3 separate regions of the Homo sapiens genome follow, and regions 1 and 3 are each linked to region 2. The links come from fine-mapping of genetic effects on plasma protein levels. A gene starts in region 2. Each other region holds a variant in brackets. All regions are shown on one strand. Distances are from middle to middle.

Region 1 (5,233 bases), 27 kb before region 2:
TGGACTATAAGAACATCAATCTGAATCACCAGACTTTGGGTCTGGACTAAGGGACATAGAGAATAATGAGTAGGCTACTGAATAATGGAGATAAATGACACTAAAGAACATGCAACTAAGAAATGACAGTAGCCACAGGAGGTAGGTAATTCATTGATGGGTTACCAAGGTGCAGATGACCTGCTTAAATGTTTAGGATTTGTCTTAATTTTATTGATTGGGTGATTCCATAATGTTGATTCTGTTAACCAAAATAGAGGCTCTTAGAGGTAAAGGAAATTTTTGTTGGGGGTGGTGGGAGAAGTTAGGGAGGATGACGAATGGAGTTTCGGAAACACTGAGGTTAAAGTGCCTATGGAGAAAACCAAAAGCTGGATATATTAATTTAGAGCTGAGAAAACTGTAAATATAAAGCACATTAATACCGTGTTGACAAAATGTAAGCCATACACTTAAGAAGAGGTTCTTTTTAAACCAAAGTCAAATGTAGGTTGTTTTATTGTAAATGTCATCAAAATCCAGAACAGCAGAAACATATTAATCAGTTTGAAATTTTAGAAATCCTTTAGCACTTGAAAAAGAGTATTACAAATGCATCTATATCACATAGAAAGTCAGCGAATACAAACTAGACAAGCAGGACATAGTTCTTTTCTGGCATTCCAGGATAATAAGAATATTTATCAATTAAAAGGTCAATATCTGTCTTCCTGAAATAACTCCAAACCTGAGTCAACACACATTCTTTTCGGATTGGTTCTGACTGGCGTAAGAAGAGAAATACAGCATTTTGTTTTTTATTTTGTTTATCTAATCACAGGGAAGGATAAACAAAGGGCAAAAGTGAGAGAAAAAGTTAGATGTCCTTGAATTTTTTTTTTTAGTGGTTGCTACTGCATTTCATGTTTCATTTTTGTTAGATCATATACATTAGAAAAGAATGATACATTTTAGAGAAGAAATATGTACATACATAGTATCAGAAATAATTTTCTTGTATTGATTCATTTAATATGGTTGTGCTTATATTCAATCAGAAGGTCAACTCCTTTGCTCTAAGGTTCTTACACTGCTAACAAGAAATGGCTTTTTTCCTGTTGCAGGTCATGAGCAGCACACAGTGTCCTTTCTAGGCACATAGGATCATCGATCACTGTGTGGACGCAGGCTAATCAGAATTGCACCTGAAATCACTTGTGCAATTAGTGATGCAAGAGTGATCACAGGAATCAAGACTGGGAGCCAAGAGAAAGAACAAGAGGTGCACAAAGAAGCAGTTCGGATGGGAGACCAGGAAAGCTGAGGGGAAAACTGGGAAACAGATTCTGGAAAACTCACAGTTTGTTTGATACCCAGGGTTAAGAGATGGGACTTTGATAGGAGTGGTGCTTATGAATTAAGGGAGGAAGAAAGAGGTGAGATCCTAATGTTGGTAAAGGTACAGAGACAAAGGGAGCCAACCAAGTGGTAAGAAAATAGAAATGGAAAGTAAAAATGAGACTTAATTCTTTAGTCAGGGAAGCCAAGCCACCAGGAAAACTTGGTAAAGAGTAAGAGAAAGAGGGAGAAAATATGAGATAATATTTTGGTATTTTGATATACTAGAGAACAAAATATTATTCTATAGTATAAAAAGAACAAAGTAAGCAATATGATCTATTGGATTCCTATTCACAATGAAAATTATCAAACAATAATTTGTCTCTCAGGCAATGCTACTAGAAGTTACTTATATAGTTGCCTTATTGTTCATTTAATTTCAGTTTAACTGAAGCGATTTTGCCCTTTTCCTTCCTTCTACGTGGTCACTCTGCTGTTCAAAGGGTAAGCACCATTTGTTCAGGTAAAGCAATTGGTGTTTGAAATCCTTCCGATAGATACGCCATCTCAGAGGGCTGCTAATATAACTAACTGTACAAGACACACATAATTTTAGGTTGGCCATTCTTGTGTATAGGGGTAATCTAAAGCTAGTAGTTACACCCCACAAAAGAAAATAAATTCTTATGACCTCTTTGATCCCACCTGAAATATCTCACAATAAACAAACAAATAAATAATAAGCAAACAAAAACAAACAGTAGCCTTCCCCAGTTGCAGGGGCCTAAAATATCTCCTAATCTGAATTTCGTCTCAGGACAGGAAACTATTCCATAGGCTTCCTCGCAGGCTTCTGTGCTGGAGTTTGTCCCACTGACTTTGGTTGTCCATCTCTCTACAAGAAGGGAACATTCTGAAACTTAGTTTAAATACTACTAGGCCTTAGAATCTTTTGTAGGTAGTTGCTGAAACTTGAAGTTGAATAATACTTTGAAGTACTATGTTACATTGCATTATGAAAACCTTCATTTTTGTAGCTGTCTCTTGATCTGCCCAACATGTCACACAAATATAGAAGAAACGGAATCTGCAATACCTAAGGGAAAAAAAAGGAATTATTAGTCTATTTCCTCTTTAGATGCTTTTGAAATTGTAAATTAAAGCAATTTTTCATTTGGGTTCAGAAAGAGTATCTACTGAGAAAATAATGTAATGCTTATCACAGCTTGTCAATGTAAACATGGTATCATCAAAAGCAGATATTAGAAGAGATTAGGCATATTAGAAGTATGCCTAATATTTTTGTTTGAAGAAACTAAAATAATTTTAAAGATTTTAAAAATCCACAACAAAAACTACCTGTTAACTGAATAAATGAATGCATCTGGAAGCTGTATTAAACTAATACATTATTTCTTAGAGGCAAAATAACTTAAGAAATTATTTTAAATACAATTTCATAACTCAAATTCTAAAATTTGAATGTGGGTAAAACTTTAATAAATCACGAGTGTGCTATGCTTTCTTTACACACGAGAACACAGATTGCAACATCATGGCAAAAGCAATAAATAGCCTATCTGAAGACTGGTTTTTATTATAACTAACCGTATCTTCGAAATCTCTTGCAGCTATGAAATACTATCTGCCTTATGCCATTGCTCATAAGAGTAATATGACATCATTGTAACTTTCAGGGAATACTCACTTTCAGGAAGAATTTGAATCCCTGTATGATTACCAACCAGGCATGCCCTTAAAGATTTACATTATGAAAGCAGGTAGAGAGCAGAAATTATCTCCACTCACCCTTAGTAGCTGAGGGATGGAGAAAGGTTGTGGTGAGGGACGTAGTTATAATTGAGGCAATTATGAACCAATATTTGAATTAT[G/C]TTATTTTAACACTCCTGTAAGAGATTTGAAAGCAGTCACCCCTCAGCCCAAATCCAGGATCCACCACTGCTGCAGTCGGACATAATATATGTTCAGCAGCAAGGGTTAATGATTAGCATCAGTCATTTATCTGCAAGTTCCAAAGATGTACGAGTCCCCAGTGATGCTGAAAAGTGGAGGCCTGATGGGGTTGCTAGTATTCTGGCCAATATATTTCTGTGATGTTGACTTTTTTCAATGAATAACTTATAAAAACTGTCTCATCAGGGTGATAGAACAGATCACTCATGAACTCTCATGGATTCTGCCTTATGGAATGATTGGTTAATAGTCATTGAACATAAACTTTCAAATTTTTCTGTAACTATTTAATCAGTCTCATAATCTGAAAGATTCTGCATTTAAAAAAATTGTATATATGTTGGAACAAATTATAATAAGAAATGACATGATTGCTCTAATATGTAACTTAGTTTGGGTCTAGCTTGATTCAGAAAATATGTTGATTTCTAGACCAAAAGTTTTAGAATATAGGTTTGAATATAGTTTTATAACACGGTTAAAATTCTTAACTAGCTATTTTAGTTTGGTTGGTGGTTCATTTAAAAAGTTGTGTTTCAGGCTGGGCGTGGTGGCTCACGCCTGTAATCCCAGCACTTTGGGAGGCCAAGGAGGGCAGATCACGAGGTCAGGAGATTGAGACCATCCTGGCTAACACGGTGAAACCTCGTCTCTACTAAAAATACAAAAACAAAAAATCAGCCAGGTGTGGTGGCGGGAGTCTGTAGTCCCAGCTACTCAGGAGGCTGAGGCAGGAGAAGAGTGTGAACCCGGGAGGCGGAGCTTGCAGTGAGCCGAGATCATGCCACTGCACTCCAGCCTGGGAGACAGAGCGAGACTCTATCTCAAAAAAAAAAAAGTTGTCACTCAATAAAAAAGCATGTTTGGTATTTGCCTAAGCCTCTCAATTCTAGTGGGTGTTTTGCTAGAATTTTGTAGGTGGCAAGGGGCATATTAAATCACAAACAATACTAATGCTTAGTTTTCGTATATTTTAAAACAAAGAAAAACTCTTGATAATCATTGAGCAGATATTATAATACAGAAATTAAGAAAAATTTATAGTTATGAAATGTAAATTTGGAACAAGAAGACATTTCTGCAGGAGTCCAGTCTCCTAAGCTGTGTGTTTATCTCATTTTTAAAGCAATTAACCTTGGTAAATTATTACTTTATCTTATGTTTTGAGATATATATGTAATATATATTTTTTACTAAGGTCCCTCTTCCTTTTTCAAATACTAATATGTTTAACAGTTCCTCTTGCAAAACACTTTTTTTTTTATCATTTGGTTAAAGGACAAAAATTATTACTGCTAAAGTGGTTTGAGTAGATTGTAACTCTAAAATATTCAAATAATCTCCTTAATATTTATATTGAGGTTTTAAACACAAACTCATGACTTACCACAAACATTACTTCCCATTTTGACATGGGCATAACCATCTACTCCCCAAGAACTTCCCCAGGAATTCCGCACAATCCAATATGGAGTGCTTCCTACAGTGAAACATAAATAGTAACAAATCCTGAAAACTCAAATTTGTTATGAATGTTTAAGTTTCTTTATTTTAAGTTGGATTCTTGCTAAGGATAGTAGCTCTGAGAAGAAGATTAAAAATGTAATTTAATGGTAACTTAAACTACTTTATTTTAACTAAGTAAACCTGAGCAGTACTTACGGACACTCTCCAATCAGTAGAAATATATGTTTGAATTCACTTCCCTTTATACAGGGACTGCATAAAATGAAAACAAACACTAATTTCCAAGGAATCAGAAAAAGAAAAAAGAACTTTTAGATACGTATGATAAAATAATATGCACTTACCTTTTCCCAACAATTATTCTAAATGTTCCCGATACAGTTTTATATCAACAAAAATTATCATCATTTTAACAGGATATCCACTCAAAAATTGACAGGTGGAATCTGACAAGACATTTACATTGGGAACA
Region 2 (5,233 bases):
GATTTCAAGGGGCTGATTACGGCAAGCACATATAAGTGGCTCATTAGTTAGGATCACTTGTTATAAAGATGCTATGGCCATCTATTTACACATAAATAAATATTCCTAAATATATAAATAATCTTATAATAATATAACCTGTGTCATTACGGCAACTGGTCTTAAGGTAAAGCTTTGGAAATTTTATGTAAAATCACATGTACTTTGGCATAGATATTATTCTAAAGTGAGTGTATCAAGCAAATTTTATTGGATCCAATATTGGGTCTGTGCCTCCCAAAAGGATAAGAATACCAAATGTTCTGTGGTAAAATAATGAGCATCAGTAAATATGAGGGCATAGCTAGGTTTTGGCACAAAGGAGAGTAGGCTAAATCCAATAGTTAAGAGCTTCCTGAGCACTGGAAGTTTCTAAAGGAGTGAAAGTGCAGAGATAAGGGGTGCCATCCAAAGTCAGGTGTCTTGTGAGGCATCCCATAATAAACCATAGTGGAGTCTAGTTTTCACTGAACAATACTATAATATTTTGTGGGAAAGTCATGGGCTAACCTAACTTTCATTTAACGTGCATTCCTGGGAAACTTACAAAACTATCTAAGGCTAAGATTAAAACAAATTTTAAAACCTTCACCATTCTCTAAACCCATGACCATGAAAGACATTACTAATTAATCAAGGACTTTCTTGAACCAGATCTTCAGCTGCAAACCCCTGAATCATCAATTCACCAATGAATTAACTTGATTTCAACAAGAAGTTTCACGGTTACCAAGGAGGCAAGGCCCTTTCCACCTTTCCCACTGTCCAGCTCTCTATCCCAAGTCCGAACAGCAATCTCCAGCTAACTAATCTAACTAATTCCTGATGATCTTAGATGAAAGACTTTCATCCCAAATCCATCCATCTCCCCCACTTCCCTCCTCCCGTCCATGGAAAAAATGTCTTCCATGAATCCGGTCCCTAGTGCCAAAAGATTGGGGACCACTAAGGTAGAAAATCGGTTTTAAAGCATTCTTGGATAAAGTCCAACTAAGCACCGAGAGGTGTTCAGTTTCCAGCAACTGTGCGTTGAAGCCTCAATGTTCTCTTTTTTGGGTATCCATCTCATGAAGCAAATTCTTACAGGCAGCAATTGCTTTGAAAATTTTTTCAGTATTTCTTAACCCGAGGTTTTTAAAATGTACTAAGAGTCTTCATAATTCGATCCTCCTCCACTTCCAACTTTCCATCTTTCAACCTGTTTCTTTGTATTTCTCCTGAGAAAAGTTACATTTTCTAGACATTCATCAGGGTATGGCCTCTTTACAGGACCAGTATGAGTCACTACATAAATTATACACATATATATTTATAAATTATCTAAAATCTAAATAAATGTTAAAAATATATTTATAAGTCTAGCCCTTTGAGCTTTGTCCTGAAATATTATTTTTAGGAGCCTGACAGTGTGTTTATTTATTTAGCCAATGAATACGTTACCAATAAAGGTGAAACTGACTTTTCCCCTAAGGGGTTTCGTTTACCAGGAAAACGAACGTAAGTTGAGGATAGGGGTAGAATACAGGCCAGAATTTTGTTCTTGAAAGAGTAAGAGGACTTCTGGTTTTGAAAGCTAGAACTGAACTCAAGAATAATAAAGTGGAGATAACAGTACACATCTCGGTTTGGACAAAACGTAAGAGTGGACAGAATCAGGGAAGGCTGGCCTTCCTAAACATTGGAGCTTTCCAGGAGAGTCGGGGGAAAAGAGCACAGCTATGAAATCCTGTGAGAAATTCCAACAAACACCAGGAAAAAAGATACACTTCCTTGAGCAATATTACTCAACTCAGACTTATGTTTGATTCAGAATGAAAGAATTTTCTTTTCCAATAAATTAAATCATGATAATGGCATCTTTCATGAATTTAAAAATGTGTTAAATAGTATCAGCTATCTAGAACATAGTGAGGCGAACACTAAATCGGCATCCCTTGCAGTTTCCTTGGTTTCAGGAAAATCATTATTTGTGCTCAGCTAACTGGTCCCTTCCAGAGTTTTCATGCTAGACTCAAATCTAAGTATTTATTATAAATATTATAAAATATAAATTATATTATATTTCGTATAATAATATGAAAAGGAAATTAAATGCTTCTCTTTTCTTCAACTCAGTCTCCGCCAAGGCAGGAAGAACTTTTAAAGTGGTGCGTTAGTTTAAGGAGAATCATAAACCATCAGGATTCTTTAATCTGGCTAAAGACAGGCTCTTTGTTTCTAACTTCTGATCACTAGCGCCCTCCTCGGGAAAAAAAAACACGACAGGTTTCTTCCACCAACAGGCTGCTCCCTGTTTCTGGTTCTCATAAAAGAGAAATAGAAGAGCTTTGGAAGCCAGTGGCAACGATAGAGGGGATTGCTAAAAGGGGGTGCTTCTTCCCACCAAGGACACTTTGGACGTATCTATGGATTTATTTGGGTGCGTCCCAAAAATCCATAGCGACAAATCTCTTCTGGAAAATCAAGTCTTTTGGTTAGCAAAGGCATGGGGGAGTGACACCATGGCACAAGGAGAGGGGAGAGAGAAGCTGGCTTTTGCACCCGCAGCTCAGGGCCCCAGACGCATCGCAGAGCCACGGGTGCCCACGAGCAGGGTCAGCTCTCGGGGGCCCTCTTCCGCAGCCCAGACCCGGGACAGGAAGTGAGGGAGCAGGGACAGATCCCGGGGAGGCGCGCGCTCGGTACCCGGAAGGCGGCGGCTTCACGCTCGCGGCTCCGCGGCCAGGTCGGGGTGAAGGGGGCGCGGGAGTCCGCATCGCCGCCGCCCCGGCACAGCAGCCACAGCAGCCACGGCAGCCACGGCAGCGCCCGCACGTCCATTGCGGCGCCCGGCTCCTCTGCCGCCCGCGCGGCCTGTTTTCTCTTTCGGTTCCTCGGCTCCTCCCAGCCTGGGCTCGAGGGGCGGAAGGAGCTGGGTTGAGTGCACGATGCTGAGATTGACCCTTTTTTAGGTCCCCGGTGTTCTGTGACTGAAAATCCGGTCAGCTGGAGGCTACGGACCTCCTTGCTGAGGCTAGTTTTTTTGTTTTTGTTTTTGTTTTGGAAGAGTCAGGCACTTGACCATGTGCTTTCGAGGTTTCACTTCCATCCATTAGAAAAAAAGAAGCCTGAGAGTCATTCTTTTGTGTGTGTTGAGATCAGGTCTCACTGCAGCCTCGACCTTCAGGTTCAAGTGCCTCCTGCCTCAGCCTCCGGAGTACCTGGGACTACAGGCGCGTGCCACCACCCCAGGCTATTTTTGTATTTTTAGTAGAGATAGGATCTTGCCATATTGCCCAGGCCGGTCTCGAACTCCTGGACTCTAGTGATCCACCCGCCTTGGCCTCCCAAAATGCTCACAGGTGTGAGCCACCTGGCCTGCCCTGTGAGCCACCGGAAGCTGCCTTTTTCCTTCTTGCCACAATCCCTAAGTTCAAGACCTAGTTCTGAAGTGATGTGGGCCAATACATAGAGTCATCCATTCAGCAGATGTTTATAAATACGTAACAAAATTGTACAGATGTGAAAAGCATACACAGTTTTTGGATCTATTATGGCAGTTTCAAAACTCTTGAAGCCTGTTTCTCCGTTTGCAAAGGAAGATAGAGCCAAGTACATAATTTGCAGGGTTCCGTGTAAACTGAAAATGAAGTTCCCTTGTTCATAAATTGTGAAGAATTTCAAGACGGCAACAGCAGAGCATTAACCCAAGCCATGGGCCTTCTAAGCACCCACTTCTGCACAGGTCACACACTCATGAACCTGGCTCTACCGAGCCTTTCTATTATCATCTATTCTGAACAAGGCTTCCATGTCTGTGAAATTCATATCATTACCCTTGTAGATTTTTAGAACTAACATCAGATTTATGTCTTTAGTTTTTACCTAGGTGCAGTGAGTTACAATATTCTCCAATGCAAACTTCGTAATAAAAATAAAAATAATGTTCCGAGTATTAAGAGGAAAGACACAAGAGTTTTTTATGTACGTTCATGATAAGATATATTGCTCTTGGCAAGTGTGGTGATAAAGATTTTATTTAAATCATAAGTTCACAGAACGATGTTCATGTTTACCTCAGCAGTTCTTTTGTACTTAGCCCTTTTTTGTGACTCATACAAGCACATACTTTTCTTTTTAAACTGAACTTTGCTTTCAGATCATAGTCCCTGTTTATTGACAACCTACGGAGTCAGGAAATTTAAATATAGGCAGTCATCTTTACTTTAGGATAATTGGTATTGTAAAAAAGCCCCTTGAACTAAACTCATTTCAGGAGCTCACATCAAGTATTTATTGAGTACCTGCTAAGTGTCAGGCATTCTTCTAGGTAATGAGGATATATCAAGTAAGTGGATAAGTGACTAAAGGGATGAAAATCCCCATCCCTATGGGACTGATATTTCAATTGATTTACATCAACAAATATTTTATTGAGTACTTCCTAAGTGTCAGGCATTGTTCTAGGTCATCAGGACACATCATGGATGGAAGTGCATAAGTGACTGAAGAGATGAAAAGCCCCACCCTGTTGAAGCTGGTATTTCAGTGAGGGGGAGAGACGCAATAAAATTACTACAGGTTGAGGATCCCTTATCCACAATGCCTGGGTCTGGAAGTGTTTCAGATTTCAGATTTTTTCCCCCCAGATTTTGGAATATTTGCATATACATAATGAGATCTCTTGGGGATGAGACCCAAGTCTAAACACAAAATTCATTTGTGTTTCACTTATGCTACTGACTGAAGGTAATCTTACTGACTATTTTAGGTAATTTTATGCATAAAACAAGGCTTTGAATGCATTTTGACTATGACCCACCACATGAAGTCAGGTGTGAAATTTTCTAGGTGTGGCATGATGTCAGTACTCAATAAGTTTTAGATTTTGGAGTATTTTGGGTGTTTGGATTAGAGATGCTCAACTTGTACATGTGTTAAAGGACAATAAATCCAGATAAGGAGCATCATCAGTGTGAGGGGTGGTACTGCTATTTTAAATAAGCTGTTCAATACTGTCCTCACTGATGAGGAGAGTTTTGAGCAAAGATTTGAAGGAGAAGAAAGTGAGCCACATGGATATTCAGATATCCAGGGAAAGAGAAGCTAAGACAGAAAGAACTGTCAACACAAAGGCCTTGAGATGGAAGTTTGCTTGGCACGTTCCAGAAACATAAAAGACGTCAGCATGGATGGAGTAAAGGAAAAAAAAAAG
Region 3 (5,233 bases), 71 kb after region 2:
AGTAAATGATTTTTTACAGGAAATAAATGAGCTCAAAGAACAATTTCCTTGGATAAAGTTCTTCTGAGCTCTGGGGGTGGTGGTGGAAGGTGAAGAATAGAACTTCACTGTGAACAAAGTTGTCTTATTATACAGATAAAGTCTCCCAGGTAAGGTCTCAGAGTTGCCCCCATAAGAATACATGAAAAGTCTGTCTGCACATGGTGACAACTCCCAGTCACTTCTCTTCTACAGTGGTTAATCTTTCCTGGTTAGTTGGTGAGATCCCTAGGGAGGGAGTCTTAAGAAAATTGCATTTCTTCTGGAAATAAGTTTCTCCAGTCAGATAAAAAAATTCCAGAGAGAATCCTTGCTGGTGCTTTGGGAAAGAAAGAAGATCAGAGAGATTAGGGGGTGGGGGAAGGTCAGAGAGAAACTTTGATTCTGAAGCAGCATCTAAGGCCTTCCAGTTTTAGTTCAAAATGTTCAGTGTGTCAAAGCACCAAATTTTGGGGGTATCATTTTCTGAGCCCTAAATACGTAAAGAATATTACATACAACATACATTCTTGGGCTAAAAGCTAGAGTGAGAACCTGGAAGAAGAGCAGAAAAATCTTTTGAATCTTCTTTAATTGATTCATTATTAATATATGTTATAAATGATAAGGCATGTTATTGTAGGTCAGCTTCAGAATACAAGCTTATAAGAAGTGACAATCTACAATAGTCATGGTGACATCTCTGAAAATGTTTGTTGTACAAGTTCACAAAGCTATCTTTGGTGGAAGAAGTAATGATCAATCCTAATTGTACTGAGGTCGAGTCCCTGGATCAGGCAGTGGTCCTACGGGAGCAGGGATTATCACAGTGAACTGTGCTCACTGATGAATACCTTTTAAAGATGAGATGAAACAGTAGTGCCTCTTCTACACACGCAGTGAGTCCAGCCTCACAACAGAGACAAAACTGAGCAATGTGTTTCCCAGTCCATTATTTTCCCTGTTGTCCTGGCTTAATCCTTATGCCTTTCAGTGTAGTTTTTTTTTTAAAAAAATTATATAACAATTACTTCAGGTTACATTCATAAATAAGATATCTAAAATTGTCCAAATGGAAAATAAGAATATCTGAGAAAATCCACTCATCCTGATTTGAAAGGTAATGTTAGTTTGGATAGTTTCAGGCTAAATAAATTAAATGAATGATAAAAACATAAATAAAATTAGCCGAGCATGGTGGCGGGCTATTTTAAATAAAATAAAATAAAAAGTTATTTTAAATAAAATAAAATAAAAAGTGTGGCCTAGACATGGTGGCTCACGCCTGTAAACCCAGCAATTTGGGAGGCCGAGGCAGGTGGATCACTTGTGGTCAGGAGTTCAAGACCAGCCTGACCGATATGGTGAAGCCCCAACTCTACTAAAAATACAAAAATTAGCTGGGGGTGGTGGTGTGCGCCTGTGGTCCCAACTACTTGGGAGGCTGAGACAGGAGAATTTCTTAAACCCGGAAGGTGGAGGTTGCAGTGAGCTGAGATCGTGCCACCGCACTCCAGCCTGCACAACAGAGCAAGACTCTGTCTCAAAAAAAAAAAAAAAGTGTAAAGAGTTCTGGAGGATAAAGAAGGAGGTATAGAAAAGAAAACAGTATTTTAGGTGGGCAATGCTTTTAACTTTTGATGAAATTCAAGGAAATGTGGCTTATATTAGTAAAAAAAAAAAATGATGTTACAAGAGGGGTGATAAAATAGGAGGTAGGAAGGAGATAGGCAGCAATATAAATAAATCCTAAAATGGAATAAGGAGAAATCTATTATAGTAGAAAAATTAATTATGATTTTTAAATACATCCAGAACAAGAAAGGGCAGAATTGACCCTGTAAAAACTAAATGAGTGGTATGAAGGACAAACATGATAAATTTTCTCTGAACTCAGGGGAAGAGACAAAGATGAAAATTAGTATATTTCTATGTAGAGGGAAGGCAACAGAAATACTAACTACATACCTAATTGGTTAATTGGGTCTTCTTAAGAAACAAATTAAAAAATGGAATATTACAAATATTCAGAGACATAAGCAGTGGATCGAGGACAGGATGTGAGAGAGAATCCTGAATATTGACTTCTATTTGCAGATCTACAAAGTTAAATAGGTGCCAGGTACAATTACAGGGGTGAGAAAAGTGTTAAAAGAAATGAAAAACAAAACAAAACAAAACAAAAACTAGACATATCTTTACCAAAACTTTTACTTCAAGAATAACAAATCTTATGAGATTCTTGGCAGAAATAAAAGTTAAAAAGAAAGAAAAGGGTGCTACAAATGAATAAAATTAGACAATTATCAGGCAGCATCCTAATACTAAGAATGAGAAAAAATACTCAAAGCATGAAATAGCAGGACAAAAACCAAACAGAGTCAAAACCCCAAATACCTTAACCATAGCTGAATAAAGGACAGGAATGGGCAAGTAATTAAAAAATTAGATAAAAAGAAATTCAAACACTTCAGATAAGGTCAATGCTTCAAATATGGGGCCAATTAAAATTAAAGTTTCTCTTTTTCACTACCATGTTGACTATAATTCAGTTTATATTAGTGTCAAGTGTTTTCTAAAGCTCACAAAGCAATCCTGTCATGGACGTTTGTTAGGGTCCCACAGATTAATTCACTCCTCCTTCTAAGGACTATGCCTTGATTTTCCTTTAGGAAATCACCCTTCTCTCACTCTCAGCTGATAAATTTAAAGATAACAGCCCGGGCCCGGCATGGTGGCTCATGCCTGTAATCCCAGCACTTTGGGAGGCCGAGGTGGGTGGATAACTTGATGTGAGGAGTTCAAAACCAGCTTGGCCAACATGATGAAACCCTGTCTCTACTAAAAATACAAAAATTAGCCAGGCGTGATGGCACAACCTGTAGTTCCAGCTACTCGGGAGGCTGAGGTAGGAGAATTGCTCAAACCCAAGCGGTGGAGGTTGCAGTGAGCTGGGCTGGCTCTACTGCACTACAGCCTGGGAGACGGAGCAAGACGCTGTCTCAAAAAAAAGACAAAATAACAGCCCACAAGATGACAGAGGTTGATTCAGAGATAGGCAGAGCCTATGTCAGACCTGTTGAGATTAATTTAAGGATTTCTTTTATAATCTCAAGGAAACTAACCATTCTGCTAGATTTC[G/A]TGTTGCCATAATGTAAATCTGAAGCCACTGGGGTGGTTGGAGTCGGGGGTGGTGTTTACCACGAGGAGACTGAGAATTAAGCCAATAACTCAGAATAGGCAACGCTGAGTTGGATTCTGGTGGCATTGTTTCAACTCAGCATAAAGATACATCTAAAGTCAATTCTACCTCTAAAACGTTGAGCTACATGAGCCAATCAATTTTCCAATGAGTTGGTTTGTTTTTCACTGGCAAGAGAAGGGGTCTTAACCAACATGTGTACATGCCCTTAATCTCGAGTTCTAGGAATTTATTCCAAACTCTAAGACTAATAGGTACATGTGTGTGTATGGGAGAGCAGGATGTCACCACAGAGTTAGTTTTACAATAGTAGAATGGGATTTACTAAATTACAATATAACCAGAGTGTTGAATAGGCTCTGGTGTTTTAGAATGATAACAGTATAAGGGATACAGGACTCATGATACTATCACAAGGCATCTTTTTAGATTTTTGTCCATCTATTCCAAAACTGCCAATAGCTGAGGCAACTAGAGTCCTCTAGCCCTGCTCTGTTCAAGCTATACCTGGAGCTTGGGTAGATGATATAGTTTATATATTTGCCCTGCCCTAATCTCATATTGAATTGTAATCCCTAATGCTGAAGGTAGGGCCTGGTGGGAGACGTTTGGATCATGGGGCAGATCTCTCATGGCTTGGTGCTGTATTTGTGATAGTGAGTTCTTGCAAGATCTGCCCATTTAAAAGAGTGTGGCACCTCCTCGCCCTCTGCTCCTGCTTTCATGGTGTGATTTCCCTGCTCCCACTTTGCCTACTGCCATGAGTTAAAACTCCCTGAGACCTCCTGAGAAGCTGAGGCATGTCAGCGTCACAACTGTACAGCCTGCAGAACCGTGAGCCAATTAAATCTCCTTCTTTATAAATTACCCAGTCTCAGGTATTTCTTTATATCAATGCAAGAACAACCCAGTACAGTAGATTAAAGCCCAACACGATGTTTTTCTTAGCCTTTCTTTATCTCTTATGAATATGTTTCTTCAGAGGCCTCTTTGGAGTGCAACACAATTGAGAGCAGGATTTGGGGTTTGAAAGAAGACATTTATTTATTCTATTTTTCTATTCTCAGTAGTAATCTCTCACGAATAGCTTTAATATTTTTGTTTTATTCACTTGTTTTATATTTTTCCCAATGAATATGTTTAACTTTTACAATAAAAATCTTATTAAATAAGGAAAAGTCAGAGAAATGCAATGAAACCAAAGATAATGTATTTGTAAGGAGACTCCCAAAGAGAAAAATCTAACAAGACTCTGAAGAAAGACTGAGATGTACAAATCAGAAGTGTATGTTGCAGGGGGGATGAAGGTTCAAGGATCAGTTATCTTTCAACTAAGTGTATATTCAGAATGAAAACTGGCCAAAGTAGAGGCCAGAGTGTTTTAAGAAGGGGAGAAACAGAGCAGTTTGGAGGTCTGAGTAAAAGATTTGTAACAGCTGGCATTTTAAACTTAAGAATGGAACATTAATAAAGGGAAACAAAGGGTTGCTAGGAGGGCCCAGTAGAAGTTGGATAGTAAGCAGTTTTAAGATATCAAAACCACAAAATGTAACATGCTGGTGAGGATGGAGAGGAAAAAGAACTCATACACTGTTGACAGGAATGTAAATTAGTGCAGCCATTATGGAAAACAGTATGGAGATTTCTCAAAAAACTAAAAGTAGAACTACCATACGATCCGGCAGTCTCACTACTTGGTATTTACCCAAAGATGAGGAAATCAGAATATCAGGTTCACTGCAGCACTATTCACAACAGCAAAGATAGGGAATCAACCTAAGTGTCCATCAATGGATGAATGAATAAAGAAAATGTGGGGTGTTGTGTGTGTGTGTGTGTGTGTGTATATACACACATATGTGTATAATATATATACACATACTACATTTTCTATTATATAATTATATGTTATATATAAATATATATAGTATATAAATATATAGATAGTATATATATATAATTCATTGTGTGTATATACATATACACACACACACACACACACACACACACACA

Direction of the effects. Positions count from the first base shown, and alleles are read on the strand shown. Strength reflects both the effect of a copy and how common the allele is. Not every link is listed here.
As copies of A replace G in region 3, the plasma level of the protein whose gene starts at base 2,878 in region 2 goes up (weak association).

The links. PIP is the chance, under the fine-mapping model, that this variant and not a neighbour inherited with it causes the effect. The UK Biobank Pharma Proteomics Project read protein levels with antibody pairs (Olink). The fine-mapping took linkage between variants from a reference panel, not from the people measured, so its PIPs are less certain.
Region 1: its variant is fine-mapped to the plasma level of the CTSO protein (UK Biobank, PIP above 0.99).
Region 3: its variant is fine-mapped to the plasma level of the CTSO protein (UK Biobank, PIP above 0.99).

The regions. Positions count from the first base shown.
Region 1 is chr4:155,923,655-155,928,887 of GRCh38, forward strand. It overlaps CTSO (cathepsin O), which reads right to left. Exons shown (of 8, transcript NM_001334.3): 7 at 4,682-4,774; 8 at 464-2,416. The coding sequence ends at 2,382. Among named protein-coding and RNA genes, the nearest start is that of TDO2, 23 kb to the left of the region's middle. The variant G/C (reference allele first, on the strand shown) is at 3,213.
Region 2 is chr4:155,950,989-155,956,221 of GRCh38, forward strand. CTSO (cathepsin O) reads right to left here and starts at 2,878. Exons shown (of 8, transcript NM_001334.3): 1 at 2,725-2,878. The coding sequence starts at 2,859. RefSeq lists an enhancer at 3,989-4,283.
Region 3 is chr4:156,022,423-156,027,655 of GRCh38, forward strand. No RefSeq gene overlaps it. Among named protein-coding and RNA genes, the nearest start is that of CTSO, 71 kb to the left of the region's middle. The variant G/A (reference allele first, on the strand shown) is at 3,160.